4 linked regions of the Homo sapiens genome follow. The protein of the gene in region 1 purifies or fractionates together with the protein of each later gene. This does not show direct contact. Each region holds a gene or a part of one and is shown on either strand. Other genes may lie near its edges. The genes, in order: VTI1B, STX6, NAPA and VAMP4.

Region 1 (8,098 bases):
GCCTGCCTCAGCATGTAAACTTAGATAATTTCCTTCATTTCTTTGGGACCTCACATTCTCCTTCATTGACTACAAAATGAGGAAGTAGGTCATTCCCTTATATCTAACAAGCAAAAATTAGCTCCTTTTAAGAGGAGCTTGATTTTTTAAAAAAATTTATACATCCAAATGACTGTTCTCCCTGGAAATCTACACATAATCTACTTATCACCATAAAGTTACCATCATTTACAATGTTTGTTTGTTTGTTTCAAGACAGAGTCTCACTGGTCACCTAGGCTGGCAAAATACATGTAATATAAAATTTACCATTTTGACCATTTGTGAGGGTATAGCTTAGTGGCTAGGTACATTCACACCGTTGTGGAGCCATCACCACTAACTGTTCTCCAGAACTTGTTTATCCTCTCAAACTGAAATTCCGTACCCATCAAATACCTCCCCATTCTATGAATTTCACTACTCCAGGTACACCATTAAGTGGAATCATACAATATTTGTCCTTTGTGTTTAGCTTATTTCACTTAGCACAAAGTCAAGGTTCATCTATGCTGTTGCACGTATGGGGATATGGCCTTTTAAAGCTATGTATTTTTCAATGTGACTCCTAAACACAAGCCAGCAGCACTTCCACCAACTAAAGAGCAATTTTTTTTTTTTTCTTGAGACAGAGTCTTGCTCTGTCTCCCAGGCTGGAGTGCAGTGGCTCGGTCTCGGTTCACTGCAACCTCCACCTCCCAGGTTCAAGCGATTCTCTTGCCTCAGCCTCCCGAGCAGCTGGGGTTACAGGCACCCACCACCATGCCCGGCTAATTTTTTTACATTTTTAATAAAGACAGGGTTTTGCCATGTTGGCCAGTCTGGTCTCAAACTCCTGACCTCAAGTGATCCATCCACCTCAGCCTTTCCGCTGCAAAAGAGAACAGATGAGCCGGGCTTATGGAGAAATGGCATGTGGGTATTCAGTTGCTGTCCTGAGATTTTCTTAGATGATTTGTCTACTCTGATTTTCATCTTAAGACCTGGCTTTTTTTGAGACTGTGTCTCACTCTGTTGCCCAGGCTGGAGTGCCGTGGCGTCATCTCAGCTCACTGCAAACTCCAACTCCTGGGTTCAAGTGATTCTCATGCCTCAGCCTCCTGAGTGGTGGGGTTACAGGAGTGCACCACCACAACCAGATAATTTTTCTATTTTTTGGTAGAGAGGGGGTTTAACCATGTTGGCCAGGCTGGCCTTGTGTGGTCCACCCATCTCGGCCTCCCAAAGTGCTGGGATAACAGGTGTGAGCTAGTGCACCCGGCCAAGCCCTGACTTTTGAACCCAATCCTACATAAGATGTAATGTCACTGTAATGCTTTATATGGATTTACATTTTGTTAATCACAACAGCATCTAATGTCAGTTATATCTTTTTTTTTTTTTTTTTTTGAGACAGTCTCACTCAGGCTGGAGTGAAGTGGCATGATTACGGCTCACTGCAGCCTCGACCTCCCAGGCTGAAGCAATCCTCCCACCTGCTCAAGCAATTCTCCTGCCTCATCCTCCCAAGTAACTGAGACTACAGGTGCAGGTTACCACACACAGCTAATTTTTTTTTTGGTAGAGATGGGGCCTCACTATGTTGCCTAAGCTGGTCTTGACTCCTGGGCTCAGGCAATCCTCGACCTCAGCCTACCAAAGTGTTGGGACTACAGGTGTGAGCCACCACACCTGTCCTTGTATCCCACTTTTTAAGTGACCATAAATCATTTTGGATGCGTATATTCTATAATCTCAACTTGAGACCAAGTTCCTCTGAAACATGGAAATTTATTTTGTCATTTTTACTGTGCCATAGATCCTAGAACTATAAACCTCCTTAGATGTGGCTACTGCCTGAAAGGGCAAATGACAACACACCCTTTACTATGTCTCATTCATTGTTGTGTGCCACCCCCTTAATATACACAAGATACTTCAGACAATTTTCTCCATACCACTCACAAAACCCATGGCTGTTTGTTGTTTAAAAAAAGGTAGAGGAAGGTTCACCATGGCAAATGGTATGACTCTTGACCATCTATGATGTAACTGAAATGAGCACCAAGGCAGCTATTACTGTTCCTGAGGGGGATGTGTTCTTAGCTACCAGTACTGAAATAATACCGACAGTCAAAAACGGCTACTTCCATGGAGCAGTATTGTATTATTTTGTAATAAGCTGTCCCAAAAGTGCTGAGCATCATCACTGCTCTGAGTCAGCACATCTCCAAACTCAGGCATGCTCACTCCTGATCCAAGCCAGACAGTAAGAAGCAGTACTGTACACATATGTACATTCCCTTCCTAGCTCCTTCCTTTCCTAGACTTTTCTACAACTGTGTTTAGTCATAAATTCTCCTCCTTTATTCTTCCTTTGTTAATGGGTATGAAAATCCGCATTCTCAAGAGGCAAATTCTAGAATGATTCCAGGAATGTAACTACATAAATGAAAGGGGGAGAAGAAGACCACAGAACCTCTCTCCTTTCACTAACTTCTGTGTGCTAGAATATTCCATTTCCTACCTGATTTCATAAAACACATTTCCTCTTATAAGTGCTCTATAACAACATACTTTTACAGAACTTCACTACATTTATGAGATCCTTTCTGGACTTCTAAGATTTAAAACAAAACAAAACAGAAACCTTTGAAATCATTTCTTGTGATGATAAAGCCAGGGAGGCAGATAATTCAAGAGACTGATCTCTACCCAACTGAGAGGGATCAATAGCAGCTTTTTAAAAATTCTTTAGGCTCAGAATTATGAAACCAATGAATGCTAGAGCTAGGATGTACCTCAGCGATCATCTAGTCTAACTTCCTGCCTTTACCACTGAGGACACTAGACCCTGGAGAAACTGAGTGCCTGCCCCACAGTCATTGGAACAGCAAATGTATGGCAGCACTAGTTCTGGAATGCAAGTGTGCTGACTCCCAGTCCAAGGCTTTTCTGTATATTAAACAACTGTATACTGTATACAACTGAGGGGCATTTTTGTGCTCCCAGAGTATAGCCTTTAACAACTGGTAAAATCTGTTGAAAAAACAAAAAACCTCTTCCTCTTTTTAGGGAGTTAGAATTGATGCTACAATCAACTACAAACAGCAAGGTGGCATCCTGGGGAGAATGGGCACCATGAACAAGAATGAACCACTTCAAATACCACTATCCCCCACCCCACAAGCCTGCCCAAATCAGTCACATGTGAGGGACTCTCTGGGACCAACTCTGTCTCCTTTGGGAAACTGGGTGGATGCTGACATGGAGTAAAATGGAAACAGACAGCTCTGAAAAACAGCACTACAGAAAGCCTACCTTAATGTTTGACCAAGGTGGGCAGCCTCTCTTCCTTATGGGGATTTGAATTTCCAGCCCAAGAATGCCTAATCTTGGCCCTTTAAAGTTGTGGAAACAACTTCAGTTTCACCAGCTCATAAATATGTGGTTACTTTGCTTTTGGTGCCTCACTGTGGCAAAATGGAGGACTTACACCCTTTATTTGTACACCGTGACAGCTGACTAGATCCCACACCATACAAGAGTTAAAAGCAACAGAGATCCCTCTCAACCAACCTGTTTCCTCATCTGCAAATAGGGACTATAAGACTACTGACCTTGTAAGGGTTGTTTGAAAGGGTTAAAAGAAATAATACACATAACATTCACTTAGCAAGTGCCAAATATAATAAGGGCTCAATAAATAGAAACCACCATTGTTTCTGAAAGTAAATACTTAGGAAGAACCTAAGAGCAAAAACCAAATTCAGTAGAAAATATGAGGAGTTAGAGGCCAGGCGCGGTGGCTCACGCCTGTAATCCCTGCACTTTGGGAGGCCGAGGCGGGCGGATCACGAGGTCAGGAGATCGAGACCATCCTGGGTGACACAGTGAAACCCTGTCTCTACTAAAAATACAAAAACTTAGCCCGGCGTGGTGGTGGGCGCCTGTAGTCCCAGCTACTCGGGAGGCTGAGGCAGAAGAATGGCGTGAACCCGGAAGGCAGAAGTTGCAGTGAGCCGAGATCGCGCCACTGCACTCCAGCCTGGGTGAAAGAGCAACACTCCATCTCAAAAAACAAAAAACAAACAAACAAAAAAAATGAGGAGTTAGAATAGTTAAAATTCTACAGTCTGTAAGTAATTGGTGTTTATCGGCCAGCTGATTATAGTACTCCATAGTGACTATTTTTTCTGGCTCTGAAAATAATAGGGTCTTGTGTTATACATACTGATCTAAATGATTTAAAATGGAAAACTTTCAATATTTTTATGATACACGTTAAGACATATGGAGAGATGTCTTCAGGTATGACAAAACCAAAACTAGAAATCATGACCACAGGCATTTAACATTGATTAGATTAAGAAATTATAGCACATTATAGTACTCTGAGGTAATTGGAGAGACCTCTTCAGAGGTTGTAAAACCAAGAGTAGAAATTATGGCCATAGGTATTTAATGAAATATTAAATGGATTAATAATTATTGTAAGTGGTAATGGACAGTTACACAAAAACTTCCTAAAACAGGACACATTGTCTCTAGTATCATTCAAAGGCAGAAAGTGAATGGAGACTGTACTTTGGAGAAATACAGTTTTTGTTGTTTTAATAGGTGGAATATACCCATTTTTAAAGTAATGAAAATGTGGACAACAGAATAGAAATAAATCACAATCATATATCAATATTTTCTTTCCAACAATTCACACATTCCATCATCCAATAGGTATCTATGAAGCACCTAGTCTGTGCTAGGCACTGTTCTGGTACTTAGGAAACACAGTGAAAAAAAGACAACATTGAGCTTATATTCTAGCTCAGTGGCTTTCACACTTAGCCTTCATCAGAAACCCCCTGGAGGGCTGTGAAAACACACTGCTTGTTAAAACTTTCTGATTCAATAGGTCTGGGGTGGGGCCTGAGAATTTGCATTTCTAACAAGTTCCCAAATGATGCTGATGCAGCTGGTTCATGGACCACAATGAAACCACTGTCCTAGTGAAAGGAAGACAAACAATATACTGTAAATATCATAAATGTGGAAAGTGTCTAATATGTCAGAAAATAAGTACTCTGGAAAAAAAAAGGTAAGAATAGTTGTATACAGGGCTGGTATTCTTAATTTTCATTTAAATAAAATGGCTAGTAGCTCTATTATCAGGCAGTATTCTAAGGACTTTACATATATTAACTCATTTACTCCTCACAAAAACCCTGTGAAGTAGATACTATGATTTATCCCCATTTGGCAGGAAAAACTAATTGGGTTAAAGTAACCTGTCCAAGGTCACACTGCTACTAGAAGGTGAATTTAAACTCAGGCAATCTGGCTCTTGAATTCTTGCTGTTAAATATTATACTATATGGCCTCTCAATTCACATACTTCTTCATAATTTTTTTTTTTTTTTTTGAGACGGAGTCTTGCTCTGTCACCCAGGTTGGAGTGCAATGATGTGATGACAGCTCACTAAAACTTCAAACTGCTAGACTCAAGTGATCCTCCTGCCTCAGCCTCCTGAGCAGCTGGGATTACAAGTGAGCAGCACCACACTACTCAGCTTTTTTTTTTTTGTAGAGATAGGTCTCACCATGTTGCCAAGGCTGGTCTCCAACTCTTGGCCTCATGCAATCCTCCTGCCTCAGCCTCCCAAAATGTTGGGATTACAGGCACGAGCCACCACACCTGGCCCCCGTATGTTATTTTTAATGGCAGAAGAAGAAACATTTTGTAAGGCTATATTATGTCATGATCTCTGTTCTACAGGTACCTTTGATATTCTCATCCACAACCCAAACTCTGCTTCTCCTCTTATGTTTCTTACTTAAGTTCATCATTCACCCAGTTGACCAAGTGAAAAAATGCAGACACCCTGGAACCTTTCTCCCTCACTCCTCATATCCATTGAGGCTGGTTAATTTCTGCCTCAAAACCAACTCTTGGGCCGGGAACTGTAGCTCACCCCTGTAACCCCAGCACTTTAAGAGGCTGAGGTGGGTGGATCACTTAAGCCCAGGAATTCGAGAACAGCCTGGATAACATGGGAGACCCTTACTAAAAATACAAAAAATTAGCCAGGCCTGGTGCCATGCACCTGTGGTCCCAGCTACTCGGGAGGCTGAGGTGGGAGGATCACCTGAGCCCGGGAAGCCAAGGCTGCAGTGAGCAGTGATGGTGCCACTGCACTCCAGCCTGGATGACGGGAGACAGGAGTGAGAACCTGTGTCAAACAAATTCCCGTTAGCAAGGTGACTGCCCAAAAGGCTCTTAACACAGTCCCCTGTACCCAGATTCTTGTGCTCTCTCTTGTCCTGTCTAGCCATTAATGCCCTCCTTCTAAAAGAAAATCCACATCAATCAACTGCTTTACGTCCTTTACTGACTTTCCATATCAAGTCCAAATGTCTCAATGTGACACTGAGATCCCCTCACAATCTGGCTGTTTCACCTGCCCCTCTACTACTACTTTCCCACATACATTCTAAGCTCCAGAGTTGGGAGTATTCCATGTTTTACTCCTGTGTTGCCTCTTCGCATTTCCCATCTAGCAAACTCCCATTCAATCCCTTATATTCAGTTTGAAGTTTTTTGAAGCTTCCCCCTCTTCCCCATGCTCAAGTCCAGCCCTTTTTATGGTCTCAGAGAACTTTATTTTAGGATTAATCACACACTTGGTTGTAAGGTTTGTTACCTTTTTTTTTTTCTGAGATAGAGTCTCGCTCTGTCGCCTGCAATCTCTGCCCCCTGGGTTTAATCGATTCTCCTGCCTCAGCCTCCTGAGTAGCTGGGACTACAGGCACATGCCACCACACCCAGCTAATTTTTGTATTTTGAGTAGAGATGGGGTTTCACCATGTTGACCAGGATGGTCTCCATCCGTGACCTTGTGATCCGCCCGCCTAGGCCTCCCAAAGTGATGGGACTACCAGCATGAGCCACCGTGCCCGGCCGTTTGTTTCTTTTTAAGGTAAGAACTCTGGAAGTCCTCAGAGCCTAGACAGTGGCTGATACATAATAATTCTCAGTGTTTATTGAAAAATGACTGAATTCAATTACAGAGCATAAGCTACATGCAAGGACTGTATTATGTACATTATGCTGTGCCTAATAATTCATGATGGGCATTAAAGCTCTGAAAACTTTATGATGTGGTCTCTGAACTAGAAAAAGAGGATTCAGAGATGAGGCACCATGTGTTTGCTTAGATAAATTCAATTTATTCAACAAACATTTATTGAGCAGTGTGAATGAGGTAGTGAATAAGAGGTAAAGTTGTTGGACTTATTATAATTCTAGGGATATGTATATATTTTCTTTACTTATCCATTAAACAACTATGTCTGTTACCAGCAACTTAGAGTATTTTGTGGTTGGGCGCAGTGGCTCACACCTGTAATCCTAGCACTTTGGGAGGCCGTGGCGGGCAGATCACTTGAGGTCAGGAGTTTGAGACCAGCCTGGCCAACATGGTGAAACCCCGTGTCTACTAAAAATACAAAAATTGGCTAGGTGTGGTAGCATGCGCCTGTAATCCCAGCTACTCGGAAGGCTGAGGCATGAGAATCACTTGAACCCAGGAGGTGGAGGTTGCAGTGAGCTGAGATTGTACCACTGCACTCCAGCCTGGGCGACAGAGCAAGACTCTATCTCAAAAAAACAAAAAAAAGAAAGAAAAAAGAAAAGAAATTCACATATTTCTGATTGTCCTCTTTGCAGGATGGAGAAAAAGGCTGGGTAGACAACAAAGGTGAATGTAACTATCTTAGCTTTATGTTGCTATAACAGAATAGCTGAGTCTGGGTAATTTATAAAGAAAATAAATGTATTTCTCAGAGTTCTGGAGGCTGGGAAGCCCAAGGCTGAGAGGGCTGATTCTTTCAAGGGCCTTCTTGCTACCCATGGGTCACCCCATGGCAGAAGATGGAAGGGCAACAGATCAAGAGAGCAGGCAAGCAAGAGAGGGCTGAACTAACCCACTCTCTCAACAACCAAGCCACTCTCAGGATAACAATCTAATCTCTGAGGATGGAGCCCTCATGGTCTAATCATTTCTTATGGGTCCCACCTCTTAAT
Region 2 (9,033 bases), on another chromosome or scaffold:
CATATGGGTGTTTTTACAGAGTGAAAATTCATATAAAGTGCTTACTTAGCACTTTACATGTATGCCTGGCACTGGAGATGCATCCTTTAAATGTGAGCTGTTACTACTTCCCTAAACTGTCTACTCCACCTGGGCTGCTCTTCCAGATCATTTCTAACACACATTGCCCAACTTAGGCCTTTGGCTGGTGGTGTTCTCACCCATGAGGCACCATTCCATCACAATCACCACCATCAACAAAGAGTATGTGTTCAACATTTACACTATATATTCAAGGTGTAGGCTGGAAATACAGAGGAAAAAAAAAAAAAAAACAGTCCCAAACCTCAGAGCTCATAGTCTAATAATGAAAGAGAGACAGAGGAAGAGGTCCAATAATTAGGGGTGACAAAGGAAGCACTTCCTGGAGGCAAGGGAGATGCTTACACTGACTCCAGAAAGCTGCGTGGGTGAATCAGGCAGTGTGGGTGCATGTAGAGTAAGAGCATCCAGTACAGCAATCACAGTCACTGTATTGAGTCTGGCACTGCTGGAGTACTAAGGCTAAGGGAGAGCAGAGGCTAGATCAGTGAGGTCAGGAAGTGTTGGCACTTTATTCTGCAGGCCAGCAGCAGCCACTGAATAATATTAAGTAGGGTACACCTGTCTAGGACTCTAGAAAAGCTTACACTGTGCTGTCCAACACGGAAGCCACATACAACTACTGACTGGAAATGTGGCTAGTGTGACAGAAATTAAATTTTAATTAATGTAAACTTGGTAACTGATAGCAATTCAGTTATCAAAAACCTTTTATGTATGTTTGGAACAATTAAAGAGTATGTAGGCCGGGCGCGGTGGCTCACGCCTGTAATCACAGCACTTTGGGAGGCCGAGACAGGTGGATCACAAGGTCAGGAGATCGAGACCATCCTGGCTAACATGGTGAAACCCCGTCTCTACTAAAAAATACAAAAAATTAGCCGGGCGTGGTGGCGGGTGCCCTGCCCATAGTCCTAAAAATACAAAAATTAGCCAGGTGAGGTGGTACACACCTATAGTCCCAGCTACTCAGGAGGCTGAGGTGCAAGAATCGCTTGAACCTGGGAGGCAGAGGTTGCAGTGAGCCGTGATTGCACCACTGCACTCCAGTCTGGGCAACAGAACAAGACTCTGTCTCAAAAAAAAAAAATGTATTTAATGAACTTTAAATACAGATCAATTATTTCTGATGAAAATTTAATGTCCAAATTTAAATGTGCAGTAAGTGTAAAATATGTATCAGATTTAGAAGACTTAGTACAAAAGTAAAATATCTCATCAATAATCTTTAATCACATGTTGAATATTTTGAATGTATTAGAGATTACATTAGAATTAATTTCACCTGTTCCTTTATATTTTACTGCGGCTACTAGAAAATGTAAAATGACATACATGGCTGGCATTATACTTCTATTGGACAGCAATGATCCAATAGATCCCAGGACAGCTGAAAGAGGAAATGAGACCAGAAGCAGGAAGAACAATTAAAAAGACTCTGATAAGCATCCAGGTAAGAGAGACAGGCCTGATTATCTAAATTCTGCCCATCTTCAAAACCTAATTCAAGATACACTACTGCCTCCAAAAGCTCTCCTAATCCTAACAATTCCCAAGGAGTTACCTTTCTCTGAACTCCTGAGGCACTTATCTGTAGCATTCACTTCAACACTCATTCATTTGCCACCTGTCATTTCTATTTAATTTTGGGGTAATTTGTTTCTCAGATTAGACCAGAAGCTCCTAGGCTAAGGGCCATAATTTAGGCACCTTTAATTTTTGCATGCTGTGTAATGCATTTTTGATACTTTTAATAAACACAGGTACATGACTCCCCAAAAATCTGGATACACCTTCATGGGTGACTTTACCTTTCCACAGCAGAAGGAACTGAGAATCTCTTTTCCTTCAAGAACCTTAAAGATAGGAGCTAAAATGATGTAAAAATCAATCAAAACTCCCTCCAAGCCAATGTTCCGATAAAGTAGTGATATTTAATCAGTGAGCAAGCATTAGTAGACTGTATAGGATACCATCAAGAAAAAAAAATGCCAAGACAGAAGAATTTAGGCTTTTGACAAATTCCATAAAAAGTCAAACAAAAAATTTCTGATCATCTCTGATCTCTACCGCCAGAGATAACCTTTGCCAACCTAAGCATTAAGAACTTTCAATCAAGGAAAAAACATCTATTTTAAAAATTAACCCCTAAATCAATCCTTCTAATAAATATCACATTTTCTAGGTAGGGATACACATATTACCAGTAAATTTACAACTCAGCATTTTCCCATCTAAATTAGAGTAAGGTGAAGAAAAAAAACTTTCCAGGGAAATATTAAGAAGTAGTATAAATGTATTTTACTGCATAATCGATAAAGTATTTCACCTAAAATACCATTTAAATTTTCTACAACACTTGACTATACAACGGCCAGCTTGCACCACTACAGAAATAGGAAGCTAGCAGCAACTAGTAAAAAGCAAGGGACATTCTGTGGTGATCAGTACTGACCTGGGAACTTTGCAGTTTTCAGATTTTTCATGTTTGACATTTAAAACAGAAAACTGACAAGTTTCTAATAAGAAACTAAAAGTTACATCAGAATTGATCTTCTTGCATGTGTTTAATGGCTACGAAGTGGATATTACAAAGTGCAGTTGAAGACTCTATCTCCAAAGAAACAATCGAGCAATCAAAGATGAGCTAGGATAGCTTGTAAGGGAACAGAAGGCAGTCCTTTCTATTCTGAAAGGCAGAAGAAATAGGAGAAACCTGTCAAACAACCTGGATGAAATCAAGGAGTTAACAAGCAACACTCATTTCCTTTAGCACTGTGAGAAAATTCCGGTTGCTAATAGAAAGCTGAGGAAAGTTTGGTTTGGCTTGTTTCATTTTGTTTTCCTTCCAAATCATCACTGAGTATGAACGACTGCTTTCCTCTCCTCACATTACTCAGTAAAAACTCCCCCATTGAATTGTCTTCCGGTGCCCTGCTCCCCAGCCTCCCAGAACGGCCCCCGCCCCCGCCTCCCTCCCAGCAAACGTGCTCAGACGCCTCTGGGCTTGTTGTGGTCTCGCCAGTCTGCGGACAAGCGCTCCAAACTCAATGGACAATGGAGCTCACCCCCGTCAACGCGAACTACAAAGCTCAGGAGGGCCATTTCCCTTTTCCTGCCCAGATGCTGTTTTCGCTCCTTCGAAGCAAGATCCCATGCTCGACTAGACGGCCAGTGTGCGCCAGGACCCGCGTGTCTCCTTCCCCACCTGCAGAGCTGCTGAGCCCCTCGGCCCCCAAATAAATTGTACCGCAGCACACAGGCCAAAAAGGGCCCCCCACCACCAGGGGCTTGGCTGGGGACAGTGGCTTCACGGTCCAGGTAGGGATGGAGGGAACGTCTCTTGACGCTTGGTCATGGCCCTCAAGACTAAGCCGTCTCCACTGTTCCCCCTCCCCAGCTCCAACTTGCCTCCCCTCCCCCCACTGCGAGAAGACCTAGGAGGTGCGGGCAGGCAGCACCGCCACCTCTTCCTCCGGTGGAGCGCTCGGCCGACACTCACCCTTTCACCACAAAGAAGGGGTCCTCCATGGACATGGCGTCCCGGCCCCGGCCGCCTTCACCTCCTCCGCGCACAGGGCGCCCGTGCCTCCCGGTCTCCCTCCGCCCACCCCGCCTGTTCCCGCAGCTGCCCGCGCCTTAGTCTGGGTGAAGCCGAGCAGCGGGCACGCGCACAGGCCAGGTGCACAGGACGGCCGCTGGTCCAGCACTCGCTCAGCACCACTGGCCGAATCCCGGACTCGGGCGCCGGCCCCCTCGGCAGCCTCCAGTCCCGGCTCCTCCCGAAGCGTCGGAGGGCCTGACCCCACCCCCGGGACCCTCGGCCGCGGCCAATCACGAACGCCGCCTGAAACACGACTTCCGCACCCCGCTCACGTGACCAGGGCATATATCTCTCTCTCTCTCTCTCTCTCCTCTCTCTCCTCTCTCTCCTCTCTCTCCTCTCTCTCCTCTCTCTCCTCTCTCTCCTCTCTCTCTCTCTCTCTCTCTCTCTCTCTCTCTCTCTCTCCCCCCCCCCCCAGTGGGCGGGGCTTACGCCTGCGTCCCTCGGCCCTGGAGGCGGAGCCCTCGGGGCGGTGGAGGTGGGCGGGCTTCTACAGCCCTCTCCTCAAGCTTGAGGGTGAGGAGTGGCTTGTTCCCTCAGAACTAGGCAGTCGGCTTTTCAGGATAAGCTGTAGTTGTACCTGATTTGCAAAATCCTCTTACCTTTCCTCTACTTTTAATACTTAATTTTGACAGTATGTAATTTATAAATCTATCTGGTCCTCGACTTAAAATGAAGCATAGTATCTGATTATAATGTTACACAGATCCTTTAAGTAGGTCTTGCTTTGTGTTGGACAGTGTGCTAAAGGTTGTGTATGCATCATCTCAGTATCCTTTGGGGGAAAGTATTATTCCCCCCTCCCCCTTTTTGGGGGGCAGGGTCTCTCTCTGTCACCCTGGCTGGAGTGTAGTGGCACAATCACAGCTCACTGCACCCTTGACCTCCTGGGCTCAAGCGATCCTCCGGCCTCAGCCTCCCGAGTAGCTGGGACTACAGGTGAGCGCCACCACGCCCGGCTAATTTTTAAATTTTTTATAGAGATGGGGCTCTCAGTATATTTCCTAGGCTGGCCTTGAACACCTGAGCTCACATGATCCTCCTGCCTCTGCCTCCCAAAGTGGTGGGATTATGGGCGTGAGCCACCACACCATCCATTTTTCTCATTTTGTAGATAAGAAAATAAGTTCAGAGAGGCTTGAAGACTTCCTGTAGTCACACAGCCTGGACAGGGCAGAACTGCAGATTCTGTGCACTTTCCACCAGATGGGGTGTACTTTCTGTTGCTGTACATTCTGCAAATAACCATGTAAAGTAATTTTTCATACAGCATATGGTGCTTCCCAGGAGAGCACACCTTCGAGGAATAAAGAAGGGGCCAGGTATGACAACTTCCTCTCACTGTGGTTCAAGAGCTATTCGAGAAAACATTTTGCCCAGAACCATTAACCAACTCATATGCTAGATATGCTATGAAATTTGTGGATGGGGATTGTGGACTTTGATTGCTGAAAATCATTGAGCACTTACTGTGTGTGTGTGTCAGGCAGGATGTTAAGTGTTATCTCAGTTGCTCTTACAATGTGATAATTACTGCTATCATGCCCATTTTATAAATGAGAAATCTGAGACTCGGAGGTTAAGTGACTTGCCCAAGGTCACCAGTCTGGAGCTGGCACAGTCCTTGGAGCAACACAAACCCCGTTTAAACCTTGGCTCTATCATTCAGTTCCTCATCTATAAAACATAAATAATAATAGCTAGTTCATGGGTTGTTGTGATGGTTAAATAAAAATGTGTGTAAACCTCAAGATCCCAAAGGACTAAGTTACTGAAGTCAGGAAAACCAGTAAGGACGCTGCTAAAGTCATGTGGCCTGAAGGGATGAGGTCCAGACCAGGATGACAGCGATTGAGAACAGAGAAGGAGTGAATCTGACAGATGTTTCAAAAGGAAAACAAGACTAAACACCTAGACATGATGAGGGGCTGAATGGGTTTCAGGAGGGGAGAGAAGAGAGGGGTGAAAGCCAAAATCCCTGGAGGAGCGAATGATGGAAGGCAGATGTGGGGAAAGGAAGCAGTGTCCAATACTAGTGATTGCTAATGTTTATTGGGAGAGAACTGTTTAATTTACTTAGCTGGGGAGGTGAAAACGTGTCATCGTTCATTCATTCAACAAGCACATGTAAATTGAGGGGTAGGTGAGCATGGTGTTGAAGACCATCCTTGGAGTCTGATTGCTTGAGTTCTGCTGCTTCCTGACTGTTGCATCTCAGGCAAGCCGCTTCATCTCTCACTATCCTCAACTGTGAAATAGACACCGTAATAACAGCTTCCTTATAGAGTGTCATGAGGTGATGTGTGAAAAGTGCTTAAAACAGTGCCTGACACATGTTGTGCTCCTACTGTGTGCTAAGCACTGAGACACAGGCATGAACAAGGCTTGGTTCTTGCCTTCAAGGAACTGTCAGACTGGTGGGAGAGACAGACTGGTGGGAGAGACACACAGTGAGAGAAGGGCACAGGTTGCCATAGAAACACAGCGACAAGATACCAGTATATTTGTGTGTTTTCGGGGCTGGGGCAGGGGGTTCCTAAGCAGTGACTAGAAGCAGCCAGGAGAAGGGGGCCATGTTGCTGGAGTAGAAGGAAAAGGATGGGGGCAGCAGGAGCTAAGCCTGGAGGTGGACAGGGTCAGATTATCAGGGCCCTTGTTTGTAATGTTCAGAATAGTGGACGCTTCCTATGGACAGTTCCCCATGGGGACTGAGGGAATTGACAGGGTCAGATTGGCATTTGAGACAGATGCTTCAGTGGCTAGGAGGTTATGGTCCAGAGGAGGGATGAGGGTATCCTGAGCTGGGCTTGTGACAACTAAGGTGGAGAAGAGTGATGCATTTGAGACATACTTTAGAGGCAAAGTTAGTATACTTGGTGACTGATTGGTTCAGGGTATGGGGGAATTGATGAAAGAAGAGGGAGGAAGGCTTCTGGGGTTGTAAATGGGTAGTGTTGGTTCCAACCATCAAGAAAGAGAACACAAGAGGAGGATTTGATTTAGGGTGAATGTAAATTAGCTGTTAGCATGTCATTTATCCCCACCAAACAGTAAACTCCTGGAGGGACAGGATACTATGTTAATGTTATTATCACCTAAGTGCCTGACACGGCCTCTTATTATCTGTTCCATGAATTTCTTAATTGGACCACATATGACAGGCCAGAGTTTTATAAGTAGTAATAGAAGATAGAGGACAGAGGCTTGGGTTCCCATAATTAGGGGATTAGAAAAAGCACCAACAATGGAGATAGTGGAGTGTCAAGATATAAAATGTGTGTATGTGTGTGTGTGTGTGTAGGTGTTCCTTTCTTTAATGTGTCACCCTCCTTTACCCTCTCTCAAACTAGACCTTGGCCTCCACTGCCCACAAGGAAAGGGAAGCTATGGCTAAAATGCAAGGAGAAACAAAGGAGGTTCTTTCTTTCTTTCTTTTTTTTTTTTTTCATTTAATAGGACCCACGTCCTGGCATAAACAATAGGTTGGGAAGAATACTCAGCAAAAACCCATCTCTTCCCACACCCCCACCCCTACCCCACCCCCAACCCAAAAGAATAATTTAAATTTCTCAGGGAATAAAAAATCAAAACAGTGGTTGTCTTGGGGGACAGAGTTTGACTGGGAAGGGAAACTTTCTTGGGTACTAGAAATGCTCTGTATCTTGACGGAGTGTGTGTTACATGAGAGTATCATTTGTCAGAATTCCTCAAACCGAAACTCTTAATTGGACTTAACTTCTGTTCATTTTTCTGGGGGAGGTTGACATGCCAACTCTGAGCTTTCTGTAGAGTTCTGAGTGGGCAGCCAGGAGAACCTCTGGTTCCTGAGTGAGTCTCCAAAGTTAGGAGAGTGAATGAGGAAGGGAGCACACTGGGTCCTGCAATGCATCTTCTGCAGAAATAAGGAGATGGCAACACAGAGAATAAGGCACAGGCAGCCAAATGAGCTGAGGATCAGAAAGGAGCCAACCATATCACTGGGGATGCCAGGATAGACCTGAGAGGGATTGCAGTGGGTAGCCACCCCCTGCCCCTGGAAGCTGCGGGAATGCCATGACACCCCTACAAGGGGATCTCCCCTACTCTGAAATAATGACATTCAGCCTGCTCCTTCACTAGCCTGTTATAAGGAACAACTGGATCATATATGGGAATAATTTTTTATTTTTTAAATTTTTTATTTTTTAAATTTATGAGGCCGGACATGGTGGCTCACACCTGTAATCCCAGCACTTTGGGAGGCCAAGGCGGGCAGATCACAAGGTCAAGAGATCGAGACCATCCTGGCCAACATGGTGAAACCCCATCTCTACTAAAAATACAAAAATTAGCTGGGCTTGGTGGTGCGTGCCTGTAGTCCCAGCTACTTGGGAGGCCGAGGCAGGAGAATCACTTGAACCCAGGAGGCAGGGGTTGCAGTGAGCCAAGATCACGCCACTGCCCTCCAGCCTGGCGACAGAGCGAGACTCCATCTCAAAAAAAAAAAAAAATTTAATTGTGGTAAAATACACATAACATAAAATTTACCATCTTAACCATATTTAAGTGTACAATTCAGTAGTGTTAAATATATTTGCCTTGTTGTGCAACCAATGTCCAGAACTCTTTTCATCTTGCAGAACTGAAACTCTATACCCATTAAACAACTCCCCATTCTCCCCCAACAATCTCTGGCAACCACCATTCTACTGTGTGTCTCTATGAATTTTACTACTCTGGGTACCTCACATAAGTGGAATCATACAGGATCTGTCTTTTTATGATTTGCTTCTTTCAGTTAGCATGATATCTTCAAGGTTCATTCATTCATTCTACATATTGCAGAATTTCCTTCCTTTGTAAGCCTAATATTCCATTGTATATATACCACATTGTGCTTGTCCATTCATCCATCAGTGGACGACACTTGGCTTTCTTTCATCTTTTGGCTATAATGAATAATGCTGCTATGAACGCTGGTGTACAAATATCTCTTTGAGACCCTGCTTTCCATTATTTTGGATATATACCCAGAAGTGGAACTGCTGGATATGGTAATTCTATTTTAAATTTTTTTGAAGAACAGTCATATTGTTTTCCATTTTACATTCCTGCTAAAAGACACACGCATTCCAATTTCTTCATATCTTCATCAACACTTGTTATTTTCTGGGTTTTCTTTTCCCTTATAGCAGTTGTACTAATAGGTGTGAGGTGGTATCTCATTATGGTTTTGATTCACATTTCTTTAATAATTAGTGATGTTAAGCACCTATTCGTGTGCTTATTGGCCATTTGTATATCTTTTTTGGGGGGTGGGGAGAAATGTCTATTCAAGTCCTTTGCCCATTTTTGATTGAGTTGTTTTG
Region 3 (5,025 bases), on another chromosome or scaffold:
CCTGCAGCCCCAGTGTTCCAGATCTTTGTGACTCCTGCTGTCGTGGCTTTAGCTGTAGCTCACACATGCCCACCTATTTTCAGGACACTTGGCAAAAGAGGGGCCAAAGAGGGCAGTGGGAGGGGGCGTGGCCAGCGGGAAGGAGCTGGAGGGTTGGCGCTAGATTTTGCTTGGCCGGAGTTTTTTTACCATTGCCTGGCAGAAGCACGGAGTCCAGGATTTCCTGGTGTCCCTGGCTCACGGCCTGGGGTGGTGGCCCCACACACCCCACACACACACACCCCACAGAGCCCTGCCCTGCTGTGGGCACCGGTGGTGGGCAAAAGCTTGGGCTTTGTCAGACCAGGTTCCCATTCCCACCCCATGTCTCACCGTGCCCTGGGCAGGTCACTGCCCCTCTCTGGATCTGTTTCCTCACTTTGAAAAGGGGGCTCACCGTCATTTGACCCTCTCAGGGTCCTCAAGAAGCACCAGCCCCAGGCCTGGCATGGAGGATGTGCTCATTTGTCCCCTGCCCCAGCTGAGCCAGGTGGGAGGAGGCAGTGGGTGCCTATCTGGGGAACCTTCCCCCTCCACCCACCTCTCCCTGCAGCCATCTCTGCAGCCAGGCTGGTGCTGAGCTCAGCTACGGGAAGGTACTGACAGACACAGAGCCAGGTGACACCTGAGGCTGGGGGAGGGGTGCAAGAGCTGACTCAATATCACCCGACATCCCCAAGTCCCCTCAGCTGCTAGGCCAGTAGCTCTGAGGACCCTCTTGTTACTAACTCATCTTCTCCCTTCCCTGCTGCCCAGCTGGCTGTCCAAAAGTATGAGGAGCTGTTCCCAGCTTTCTCTGATTCCCGGGAATGCAAGTTGATGAAAGTAAGTGCTGGGTGCTCCGGCCTCCCCCTTCCCGAACCTCAGACGGGGGTGGCTGGGGCTCCAGGTGGGACAATCGCCAAGACTTGTCCAGTAGTTCTCAGAGGGTGTCTTTGTTTTGTTTTGTTTTGTTTTGTTTTGTTTGGCCATTTGAGTCTCCATTTTCCAGATGAAGAAAGTACAACTCGGGGAGTGCTGGAGCTCAGGATGGCTAGGTGGACACACACACACACACTACACACACCACACCACACCACACACACCAAACATACACTACACACACCACACCACACACATCACACCACACCACACACACCAAACATACACTACACACACCACACCACACACATCACACCACACCACACACATCACACCACACGCTACACACACACCACCCCACACACCCCACACACACTACACACACACCACACACAGCAAACACATCACACACCACACATATCGCACACACACTACACACACACGACACACCCCTCACACAAAACACATTGCACAGTACACACACCACACGACACACCCCCCCACACACAAAACACACTGCACACACACCACACATGACACACCCCACACACACACATTGCACACACACTACACACACCACACACACCCCACACACACACCGAACACACCACACACGCAACTCAACACACACCAAACACCACACGTGCCCCTACACACCACACCCCAACACACACACCACACACACACACACCTCCACCACACACCACACCCAACACACACACCCCCCATACCCACACACACACACATTCTGTGTGATGTTCTATGTTGGTAAGGTTGCCCTGAGAGCAAGCCGTTTCTGATGAATAGGGCAGCAGGATCGCAACACGCCCGTACCCATCCCCAGTTTAACCCACACGGATTGACCCTCTGAGAGTCCTCAGGAAGCCCCAGCCCCAGGCCTGGCATACAGATAGCGTGTCCTTTCATCTAATCCAGGCCAGACCTCAGGTCAGCATAGGCCCCTGACCCCTCTCTGCCATTTGCTTGCAGAAATTGCTAGAGGCCCACGAGGAGCAGAATGTGGACAGCTACACCGAGTCGGTGAGTGGCCAGCATGGGGGGCCAGGCCCCTTCACGGGGATGGGTCTCCTAGGAAAGCTGCCCTTCTCAGACACGCTCTCCATGACATTCACCCATTTCATCTGGCCCCCAGCCCACTGTGAAGTTCTTTCTCCAGTCACCCCAGAAACCTTACAAGTAGCGCCAAGAGGCGCAGGGAGTGTTCTCCCCATTTTATAGATGGTGGCACTGAGGTTGGGGAGGTCAGGAGGCTCGGCCTTGGCCCCTCAGGGACAGAGCTGGTGTTCAGAGCCACATCTGTCTGCCTCTGAAGACCAGGGTTCCTTGAGTCCCCCAGGTGAGTGTGTGAGACTCACAGTGGGCGCCTTGGGCACCCAGGAGGCACAGACGGGGAGGGAAGGGGTGAGAAGGAGAGTGGAGCTGAGGACATGGGAGAGGTGCCAGCTTCCCTCTGCCTGGTGGAGCCGCCCACGCGGCTCTCTCTCCCTTCCCTTTCTCTGTTCCCAGCATTCCCGGGCTTAGTGGTGTCCGGCTCAGGTCCTGATTCACTCCTCTAATGGCACATGTCAAGCATTTCTCCCTAGGTGCCCCTTGGGAATGGAAGCCCCTAACTGAGGACAGTGAAAATGCCATCCTGTTCCTCCTGCCCCAGACAGTGGGTGGCAACTCAGCCAGGAGCTCAGGGAGGGGATGCCCAGCAGGCCGTGGCTTCTCTCCCCCGTGTCCCATGGCACTCAGGAGTGGCCTTTTCCATATCTCCAGGCCTCAGTTTCCCACCCATTCAGTGAGGATGCTGGACTTTTTTTTTTTTTTTTGAGACGGAGTCTCGCTCTGTCGCCCAGGCTGGAGTGCAGTGGCGTGATCTCGGCTCACTGCAAGCCCCGCCTCCCGGGTTCACGCCATTCTCCTGCCTCAGCCTCCCGAGTAGCTGGGACTACAGGCGCCCACCACCACGCCTGGCTAATTTTTTGTATTTTTAGTAGAGACGGGGTTTCACTGTTAGCCAGGATGGTCTCAATCTCCTGACCTCGTGATCCGCCCGCCTCAGCCTCCCAAAGTGCTGGTATTACAGGCGTGAGCTACTGCGCCCAGCCATGGACCTTTTTTTTTTTTTAAAGCTACAATATCTTTCTCCCCCAAGGGAAATGATGTGCCCAGCATAGTCAAGACAGACAAGAGGGAGCTCCCATGGCTGAGTTGGGGCCTCAAGCCCTCCCTCTACTCCTCCTCAGAGACCAGGGGTGACAGAGACAGATCTTGAAAACCTTGGGACAAGTGCCCTTGGGCTGCAGGGTTGGGAACGGGGGGAGCATGGCCAGCCTATCACCTGGTGTGCCCTCAGGTGAAGGAATACGACTCCATCTCCCGGCTGGACCAGTGGCTCACCACCATGCTGCTGCGCATCAAGAAGACCATCCAGGGCGATGAGGAGGACCTGCGCTAAGCCCCACCCAGCCCCCCAGTGCCCGTCTTCCTGTCCCATCTGCTCAGAGAGAGGTGGGGCCGAGACTTGCTGGAGAGCTTCCCTCCTTTCCCATCTGGGGAGTGCCGCGGGCCACAGTGGGCAGGTGGCACCGGGGGTCAGCATGCAGGGGCGCCAGAGGCCCAGGCTGCTGGCCGGACAGTCACCCTCTGTTCTCGCTACATCCCTTGCCCCCTGTCCATTTATTTAAGCCCCCATAGGTGCCCTTCACCCCCAAAACCAGCTGTACAGAATCTTTGATACAGACCTATTTGCTAGGGGTGCTGCCGGGGATTTGGGGTCAGCATCTGGCCCCCTATCTCCTGACCAGCTGAGTCATGAGGCCGGTTTCTCTCTCTCTCCCACTTTTGTCCCCCAGCCAAGCTCTAAAGCACATGTAGCCGCTGAGACCTGCTGTTTCTGCTGGGGGCAGGCTCCTCTTCCCCCAGCCCCGGGAGCCTCCCCCAGCTTCCTGCAGCCCCGACCTCTCAGGTTAGACCCTGGGCCCTGGAGCTTAGGGGATTCTCCCCACCCCAGCCCCACACCTGCTCCTTCCCTAATGCTTTGAGGTTTTCTTGGTTGGAAGCTGCAGCTGGCCCAAGAAAGAAAATAAAAAACAACACTTTTGCATGAGTCTCTCTTCCTCCTCACCTCTGCTACCCACTCTGCCCCTGGGCCAGTCACCAGTCCCTCTCACACTCCTGGTCCCCCAGACTCTGGGCGAGCTCTTGGGAGGTCAGGCGCATGCATCCTTGAAACACGTGTGGGCTGGGTCAGTTTCTAGGTGGGGGAGACCCAGGGACGGTGGGCCTGGGGAGGAGCTCTGGCTTGGGAGTCCCAGAGCGCCCATCTTGATCTTTCTCTGGGTTCTTGGGGTCCAGGGGCCTTGATTTCCTCAACTGGGATGCACGGTGGTGATGCCACCCCTCAGAGCCAGTGGGAGGGTCGAATGTGACGGTCCTCATGACTGCTTTGGATGAGAATGGGTGGAAGCCCACCGAATCTCCCATGTCCACATTTCTCTGGCAGGAAGGCTGAACGCCCCGGTGACAGTTGTTCCATCTGTCACAGGACGGGGGAGGAAGCGGCTTTGGTGGGCAGAGTCTGAGGCCCGAGTGGGTCTGGGGAGTGGGGGAGGAGATAGCAGGAGCCTTTGCCCAGGAAAGGTGGGCAGAAACCAGCTGCCTCCACCACACTCCACAATGTGCATGTTGGGGGCCCTGTCTGGTACACATGTGCTTTACCCTGCCCCGCGCAGGGCCCCTCGCTACAGAGGAGACAGCTGAAGGAGGCTCAGTGCCCAGGCATGATGGGAAAATGTCAGGAAGTGAGCAGGGGCAGTAATTGCACAGAGGAGGGGCTGCCTAGGAAACCAGGGTGGACTCCTGGGAGAGGGGCTCCAGCCCAGAAAGCCTAGAGAAGTGCAGGTGAGGTTCAAATTCCTTGACACCTGCCCTGCTCCTCTCTCCCCTGCAGCTTCTCCCACAGCTCCAGTCCACTGATAATGGCAGCAAAGACTTCTGAGACCTGAAATTGATTACCATGTCTGCCCCCATCATGGGTGCTGGCTGAAGGATAGTGTGAGAATCTGTTTCTGTCATCCATGACCTAAATCAGTGATGGTCCGCCCTGGCTATGCTTTA
Region 4 (8,098 bases), on another chromosome or scaffold:
GTGATAGCATTAGGAGATATACCTAATGTTAAATGACAAGTTAATGGGTGCAGCACACCAACATGGCACATGTATACATATGTAACTAACCTGCACGTTGTGCACACGTACCCTAAAACTTAAAGTATAATAATAATAATAAAAAAAACAGGATTGCAACAAATGCTATGCAGAGAATTAAAACAGTGATGGGACAGAAAGTGATGGGGTGACTACATGAGATTAGGCTGTCATAAAAAATCACTCTGAAGAGGTGAAATTTAAGCTGAGATCCAAATAACAAAGAGCCAGCCAAAGATCAGGGTGAAGAGCATTCATTGCTGCAGGACTAGATGGCTGGCACAGAAAAAGTCCAAGTGTATTAGTTATTCACAATAAATGTGACTGGTTTGAATGTCCCTATTTAATAACAAAAACTATATGTGATTAGGGTTCAAAAAAATTCTAGCCAATATCTGTTTGCAAGAAATTCACCTAAAACAAATACCAAATAAAGGATGGGGAAAAGCAGGGGTAGAAAAGAAACATCAGCAAATTCTAACAAAAAGAATGTTACAGTTAGCAATATAAAGAGGAATTTTAGGACAAAGTATTAAACAATCAAATAAGATGATTTTACAATAATAAAATATACAATCCATCAAGAAGATTTAATAGCAACGAATGTTTAAATACCTAATAATATAGCTTAAAGTATCTTACAGAAGCTGCGCAAATTATGAGAAACAGTTACATCAAAATCATAGGGAGGATTTAACATACCCTTCAGAGATGGAGAAGCCAAACACACAAAAAAATCTAGAACTTTGAAACTAGACAGCAAATTTTATTTTATTTTCCTTTATGGGTAAGCCACAAAGGACATTTAATAAATTCCAAAAAATAGAAATTACACAAGTCATATTCTCTGACCATAATGCGATGGAAAAAGGAAGTTTTAAAATACTCTTCTCAGCTGGGTGCAGTGGCTCACACCTGTAATCCCAGCACTTTGGGAGGCCAAAGTGGGGGGATCACTTGAGCCCAGGAGTTCAAGACCAGCACTGGCAACATAGCAAGACCGTGTCTCTATGGGAAAAAAAAAAAAAAAAAAAAAATTTAATTAGCCAGGCATGGTGGCTCATGCCTGTAGTCCTAGCTATTCAGCAGGCTGATATGGGAGGATCTTTTAAGCCCAGGAATTTGAGGTTAGAGTGAGCTATGATCATGCCACTGCACTCCAACCTGGGTGACAAAAGGAGACCCTGTAGCAAAAAACCTCACAAAAAACAAAAAACATCCTTCTCATTAACTTTTATGTTAAATGTAAATAAAGGTGATTAGACTATTTTGAAATGAAAGACACTGGGAAGATCACAGGTCAAAATCTGAAGAGTATGGCCACAGCAGTACTTAAAGGAAAATGGGACCTTAGACATATTTTGTTATGAAATCACAAAGATTGAAAATATATAAATAGTTAACTCTTAAGATGGGTAAGTTATTCCTAAACAACACACAACTCCAGAAGTCTGAAAGAAAAAGATTAACATATTTGATTATATAAAAATTTAAAACTTGAACATAAGACATCAAAAACAAGGTTAAAAAACAAGCAACAGACTGGGAAAAAACATCTGCAGTATCCTTTAAGACAAAAGACCTGATGTCTGTATTATATAAAAAGCTTTGACAAACTAGTAAGAAAAAGAGACATTATAGAAAAACAAAGAATAGAAATAGATAATTCCCAATAGAAGAAATGGCCAATGACCACATGAAATGTTCAAAACCAATTAATATTCAAGGAAATGCATTAGGTCATTTTTTAAATAAATATTTCTTGAGTAATATTCTAGCTAACAAGTAACAGACAAGCATTACATTTATAATATAATGTATTTGGTTTATGGCCGGGCATGGTGGCTCACGCCTGTAACCCTGGCACTTTGGGAAGATGAGGAGGGAGGATCACTTGAGCCCCGGAGTTCGAAACCAGCCTGGGCAATACGGTGAAACCCCATCTCTACAAAAAAAAAAAAAAAAAAAAAAAAAATTAGGCGTGGTGGTGTATGCCTGTAATACCAGCTACTCTGAAGGCTACTTGGGGGGATTGCTTGAGCCCAGGAGGAGGCTGCAGAACCCTGATCGTGCCACTGCATTCCAGCCTGGGTGACAAAGCCAGACCCTGTCTCAAAATAATAATGATAATAGTAATAGTAATAATTTATTTGGTTTAGAGGATAATGATACTAAAGATATGTTTACTATAATTGTACACTGAGAAACACACATGAAAACCAATGCTTTTTCATATATTAATTGAATAAACACAAGTGCTAGGGATACAGTGTCAAAAAAGAATAATAGGACACAATGAGATAATATTTCATACCCACTAGGCAGATAATATTAAGTGTTGGTGAGGATGTGGAGAAATTAGAATCATCATACATTGCCGGTGAGAATGTAAAAATTGTACAACCACTTTGGAAAACAGCTGGGCAGTTCTTCAGAAGGCTGAACAGAGAGTTACTACAATACTCAGCAATTCTACCTTTAGGTATACACCAAAGAGAAATAAAAACATGCTCAAACAAAAACTGGTATGCTAATGCTCATAGCAGTAGTATTTAAAATAGCCAAAAGTAGAAAAAAACCCAAACATCTATGAACTGATAAATGGGCAAACCAAATGTGTTATATCAATATAAGGGAATATTATTAGCAATAAAAAGGAATGAAGATCTCCCAGCACTTTGGGAGGCCGAGGTGGGTGAATCACCTGAGGTCAGGAGTTCGAGACTAGCCTGGCCAACATGGTGGAACCCCATCTCTACTAAAAATACAAAAATTAGCTGGGCGTGGTGGTGTACGCCTGTAATCCCAGCTACTTGGGAGGCTGAGGCACGAAAATCACTTGAACCCAGGAGGTGGAGGTTGCAGTGAGCCGAGATCGCACCATTGGACTCCAGCCTGGGCAACAGAGGGAGACTCCGTCTCAAAAAAAAAAAAAAAAAAAAATGAAGCACTGATATGCACTATAACGTTGAGGAATCTTAAAAACATTATGCTAAGTCAAAGAAGCCAGTCACAAAAGGCTATATGTTATATGATTCCATTTACAGAAAACGTCCAGAATAGACAAATCTATAGGAGTGCAGTTGCTTAGAGGCTGAGGGGATAAAGAAAATGGGAGATGACTGCAAAAGGGCACAGCATTTCTTTTTGGGCTAATGAAAATATCCTAAAATTGATTGTGGTGATTGTTGCACAACTCTGTGAATATAATAAAACTCACTGAATTGTACACTTTAAGTGGGTGAATTGTATGGTACGTGACTTTTATCTCAATAAAGCTATTACCAAAAAAGTATAATAGGAAAGAGGAACAAAACTTTTAAAAGATTTTAAAAGTAATTTATATATTATTCTAACCAATCAGTTATCAAACTTCATAATATAATAAACATCAAAAAGGAGTTCTCTTGAAACAGTCAATTTTATTCAGTTCTGGTGTCTAATATACTAATAATCAATGAAGAATATAAGGAGAAAGTGATACAATTACAGTCTCAGCAGTGGAATTTATTGAGACAATACATTTTAAATTTAAAAATGTATTCATAAAGCTTATTTATTTGTATTATTTTTAATTTAAGGTTTACTATTGTTTTTCTTGAAGTAATTTTTCCTGCCCTTGTTATTAGGGTGGGCTTTATGTACTATTTAATCTGATTTCCACACATATTATTAAACTGGTATTTAATATCTACAAATAATAATTTTGTCACTATTTTCTCAGGATTATGACCAACATGCCATGAAACTGTGATCCTAGTATATCACGCCTGGACTTGATTTTTAAAAAGCAATCATATTCAAGTGACTGTGTCCTTAACAGTGATTCCATTAAGTGAACAACAAATTTACGTTCAGCAGTGATTGTGAGAAAGAAACACAGGGGAACTTAGGAAATATAAATAGTTTCAGTTTAAAATCATGTAAAAATAAAACTATAAAATTAATGGGATTTGCATCAATTAAAAATTATTAAATAATATACTCTTGCATACTATACATTGAATTTGGCTACAACCTTCTCTGCTTTACATACATTTTTCAAAATTGACATAGATTGTATGAATTACAAACAAGTTCCGAGAGGTGATTTTACTACATACATTTCCATACTTCAGTCTTCATCTTACACAAAGGCAGATGTGACTTAGGGGCTCTCTGTCCAGGACTGAGGTATTTACCTGACATATCTCAGATATCAGTCAATCAACTGTCAGCATTTATTGATCATCTTCCAGGATATTAATGCTTTGCAAGCATCTCTGGGTAAGTGACTAAAGATTTCCTTGGGGCAATAGGAAAGAGGCTCAGATTCTTCTAACCGATGATTTAAAAAATATTTCAGCATGCTTTGTGCACGCTGATCACTGAATATTCATCAGGAGCTTTCAGTCAGCTTTTACTGGATGCATATCAAGTCTGTGTTGTTTTACACTGGGTTCCTTTATAGGTTCACAATTGGTATCATTTACTTTAACAAATTGACATTTATTCTCTGAATGGGTTTAGTATTTCGCCAAACCTTCTGCTTTGTAAAGACATGCTTTTTTTTTCTTTCTGAGATGGAATTTCACTCTGTCACCCAAGCTGGAGTGCAATGGCACAATCTCGGCTCACTGCAACCTCTGCCTCCCAGATTCAAGCAATTCTCCTGCCTCAGCCTCCCAGGTAGCTGGGATTACAGGTGTGCACCACCGCACCTGGCTAATTTTTGTACTTCTGCTAGAGATGGGGTTTCACTATGTTGGCCAGACTGGTCTTGAATTCCTGACCTCAAGTGATCTGCCCGCCTCGGCCTCCCAAAGTGCTGGGATTACAGGCGCGAGCCACCACGCCTGGCCAAGACATGCTTTTGATAGTAAATCTTCAGTGTATGGAATTCCAGCACAGGTATATCAAATTTTCTGAATCACTTTTTCTTGGAGGTTTATCTTGAAAGATATTACATTAAAGAAAGAGACCCTGGATTATCCCTGAGTGATTTCTCAATCCCTGATCATCCTCTGCCTTCTCTCGGCCAGAGCCTTCCGGGTTCACCCAGACTTGGTATATTTCAAGGCATTTCTCAATTCCTTGCATGGGGAACTAGCTCAAGCAGACACTAAGAGTTTCACCATGGCATGGAGGAAAAGATAGGTGACCAAAATGGTTGAAACTGCACCAAATGCTAGTAAGCAGTTGAAATTATGGCAAAGAAGGAGTAACTGGATTTGGCAACATGGAAATCATTGGTGACTCCTTAAAGTTTATTAGTAAAAGCTTGCTAGCAATTAATCTATTGGTGGATTCTATTTCCCCATTAAAAAACAAAACAAAACAAAACAAAACAAAACAAAACAAAACAAAACAGGCCGAGTGCAGTGTCAAATGTCTGTAATCCCAGCACTTTGGGAGGCCAAGGCAGGTGGATTACTTGAGCTCAGGAATTTGAGACCAGCCTGGGCAACACGGCAAAACCCCATCTTTACGAGAAAAACAAAAACTAGCTGGGCATGATATCATGCACCTGTAGTCTTTGCTACTCAGGAGGCTGGGGTGGGAGGATAGCTTGGGCCCAAAAGGTGGAGGCTGCAGTGAGCTGTGATTGCACCACTGCACTTCAGCCTCAATGACAGAGCGAGACCCTGGTCTCAAAAAATAAAAACAAACCATCAGAAACACACAAAACCGCAAAAGCTGTACAAAGGGTTAGAATAAGGGGAAGAAAATGTTTCCTGTGTTGTACTAAAAGAAACTTATGACTAAAAGTCATAAGATGGTGGACAGAGTGGATAATATGAAGTTCTGAGGTTGTCCAAAAAGAGCATGTAAAACAAAGCAGACTAAAAGCTTTGCAAGGGCACAGACTATGTCTTCCAATTTTTAGCCCAGTGCCTAGCACATAGGAGGTGGTCAATACATATTTGTTGAATGAATCAAGACAAGAAGGAAAGGAAGGAGGGCTTCAGAATGGTGCATTAAAAAAATAAGAACGTGAATTATTTCCCCCAATAAATATGTATTGAGTACTTATTCTAAAAGTAATCTGCCTACAACATTCATATAAAATGTTGTCTTTTAAATGCGGCATAATTTCTAGATTTATATATATTTGCATAGAATGTTCTGGAATAAACTAGAAATTGAAGCATTATATAAAAGATACTCTGGAACATAAGATAATTACAGGTCTGGGGACCTTTATTTGCAATTCCAAAATCTAAAAGCTTCTGAAAATCAAAAAGTTTTGGAGGAAAATTTGACCTGAACTGATGTTAGCTAGTTTATTTACACACTTTATTTACATAGTTAGTTAGATATAACTAAATATAGACTTCACTGAGAAATATTAATATTTTTGGAGGCACTGGTCCAGGCCCCAAAAATGCTGTTACATAATATGTTCTTAACTTTCTAAAATCTGAAAAATTCCAAATACATTCAAAGTTCTGAATAAGATATTGTGTATTTGTATAAAACTCCCTTTCAAAAACTAGAAAGAAGCTATGAGAATAATGATTTGATCAATAATGGAAGTAGAATTCAGTTGTCACCAATCTAAGTAACATGTTTTTAAATACATTTGCTATGAAGAAAACAATTAGGATTAGAATATAGTCATAAGCTTTTGATTTTTCTGTTGTTATTATTATTAGTTAATTAATTTTTGAGACAGGGTCTTGCTCTGTTGCTCAGGCTGGAGTGCAGATCACAGTTCACCACAGCCTTCATCTCCCAGGCTCAGGTGATCCTCCTGCCTTAGCCTCTTGAATAGCTGGAACCATAGGCATGTGCTACCATGCCCCATTAATTTTTTAAAAATTATTTATAGAGACAGGGTCTCCCTGGGTTGTCCAAGACAGTCTTGAACTTCTGGGCTCAAGCTATTCTGCTTCAGCGTCCCAAGTGCGGCGATTGCAGGCATGAGCAACCACGCCCGGATGGTTTTTCTTCTATTATTCACAAAGGGAATGAAAACATATTTTGAATCTTTTGTTTTTAAAGCTTAAGATTCCGAACTTACCCTTTCACTTTTCACAGAACCTGTGACATCATCATCATTGAGGTGGCGCTTAAACTTGGGAGGCATATTTTTTACTTGCAAAGTATCTTTTGCTTCTCAACAGGATAGTCACCACCTTAAAGAGAAAATAAATTTCATCAGATTTGAGACTTTGGGGCATAAGCTAATGTACTTAAAACAGTGTACATGAAACCCTGTATGACAGGGACTCCCTCATTTTTCTGACTTCAATTCCTGCCCTCTCACTTGTTCCACTCCAGTGACTGGGGCCTCCATGCTAGACCTCAACACCTAAGAAATAGTTAAAATTATGAGAAAATGGATGTAATTGCCCTAAGAGAACATGTGTAGGATATGAGTGATTTAAGATTTTTATAAAATGAAAGAGCAGAGAGTAGAGGGAGGACGTCTCACTGAGACATTAAATGCTTTACAATTTAAAGTTGGAGTCAGAAGACAGGAGAACATGCCTATTTCTCTCACTTTTAGTTGGTTGCTTAAGCAATGATTCAGTTTCCTCAGGTGTAAAATACTGATTTTCAGGCTTCTGCAGAGTTGGGACGGTCAAATTGGATAATACATGCAAAAATATTCTGCAAACTATAATGTCCCATTGGTACTCCATGAAAAGGGGTAAGTTTGGTAAGTACTGGTGTGATATCGTGATTTACAAAATATACTCATTTGGTCTTAATCCCCATTTCCTGACATATCCTTGGAATCGCTGCAGTGATGTGTCTTGTGTATGCTAATAAGATGACTGGTAGCTTAGCCCCCAGATAGATTCCAGATGGAGGCTGGTCACAGAAAAACCTAGGCATGATTAGAAGACTGGGACTTTACAGCCCCACCCCCTAGCTTCCTGGAAGGGGAGGAGGGCTCAAGGTTGAACTGATTTCTAATAGCCAATGATGTAATCAATCATGCCTACTAAGGAAGACTCCATAAAACCCAAAAAGGACAGGGTTCAGAGAGCTTCCCAAAAGCTGAACAAGTAGAGAGTTCCTGGACGGTGGCACACCTGGAGAGGGCACA

The links.
Region 2: the proteins of VTI1B (region 1) and STX6 purify together in Homo sapiens (affinity purification with mass spectrometry; 5 studies listed by BioGRID and IntAct, with this or other methods). This does not show direct contact.
Region 3: the proteins of VTI1B (region 1) and NAPA purify together in Homo sapiens (affinity purification with mass spectrometry; 5 studies listed by BioGRID and IntAct, with this or other methods). This does not show direct contact.
Region 4: the proteins of VTI1B (region 1) and VAMP4 purify together in Homo sapiens (affinity purification with mass spectrometry; 5 studies listed by BioGRID and IntAct, with this or other methods). This does not show direct contact.

Annotation. Positions count from the first base shown.
Region 1 is NC_000014.9:67,663,851-67,671,948, forward strand, and holds part of VTI1B (vesicle transport through interaction with t-SNAREs homolog 1B), read right to left. Parts: intron 1-8,098. UniProt on the Homo sapiens protein: V-SNARE that mediates vesicle transport pathways through interactions with t-SNAREs on the target membrane. These interactions are proposed to mediate aspects of the specificity of vesicle trafficking and to promote fusion of the lipid bilayers.
Region 2 is NC_000001.11:181,019,056-181,028,088, forward strand, and holds the start of STX6 (syntaxin-6), read right to left. Parts: upstream 3,816-9,033; 5' UTR 3,619-3,815; coding exon 3,584-3,618; intron 1-3,583. UniProt on the Homo sapiens protein: SNARE promoting movement of transport vesicles to target membranes. Targets endosomes to the trans-Golgi network, and may therefore function in retrograde trafficking.
Region 3 is NC_000019.10:47,486,627-47,491,651, reverse strand, and holds the end of NAPA (alpha-soluble NSF attachment protein), read left to right. Parts: intron 1-795; coding exon 796-864; intron 865-1,890; coding exon 1,891-1,941; intron 1,942-3,262; coding exon 3,263-3,364; 3' UTR 3,365-4,015; downstream 4,016-5,025. UniProt on the Homo sapiens protein: Required for vesicular transport between the endoplasmic reticulum and the Golgi apparatus. Together with GNA12 promotes CDH5 localization to plasma membrane.
Region 4 is NC_000001.11:171,731,286-171,739,383, forward strand, and holds part of VAMP4 (vesicle-associated membrane protein 4), read right to left. Parts: intron 7,179-8,098; 5' UTR 7,130-7,178; coding exon 7,064-7,129; intron 1-7,063. UniProt on the Homo sapiens protein: Involved in the pathway that functions to remove an inhibitor (probably synaptotagmin-4) of calcium-triggered exocytosis during the maturation of secretory granules.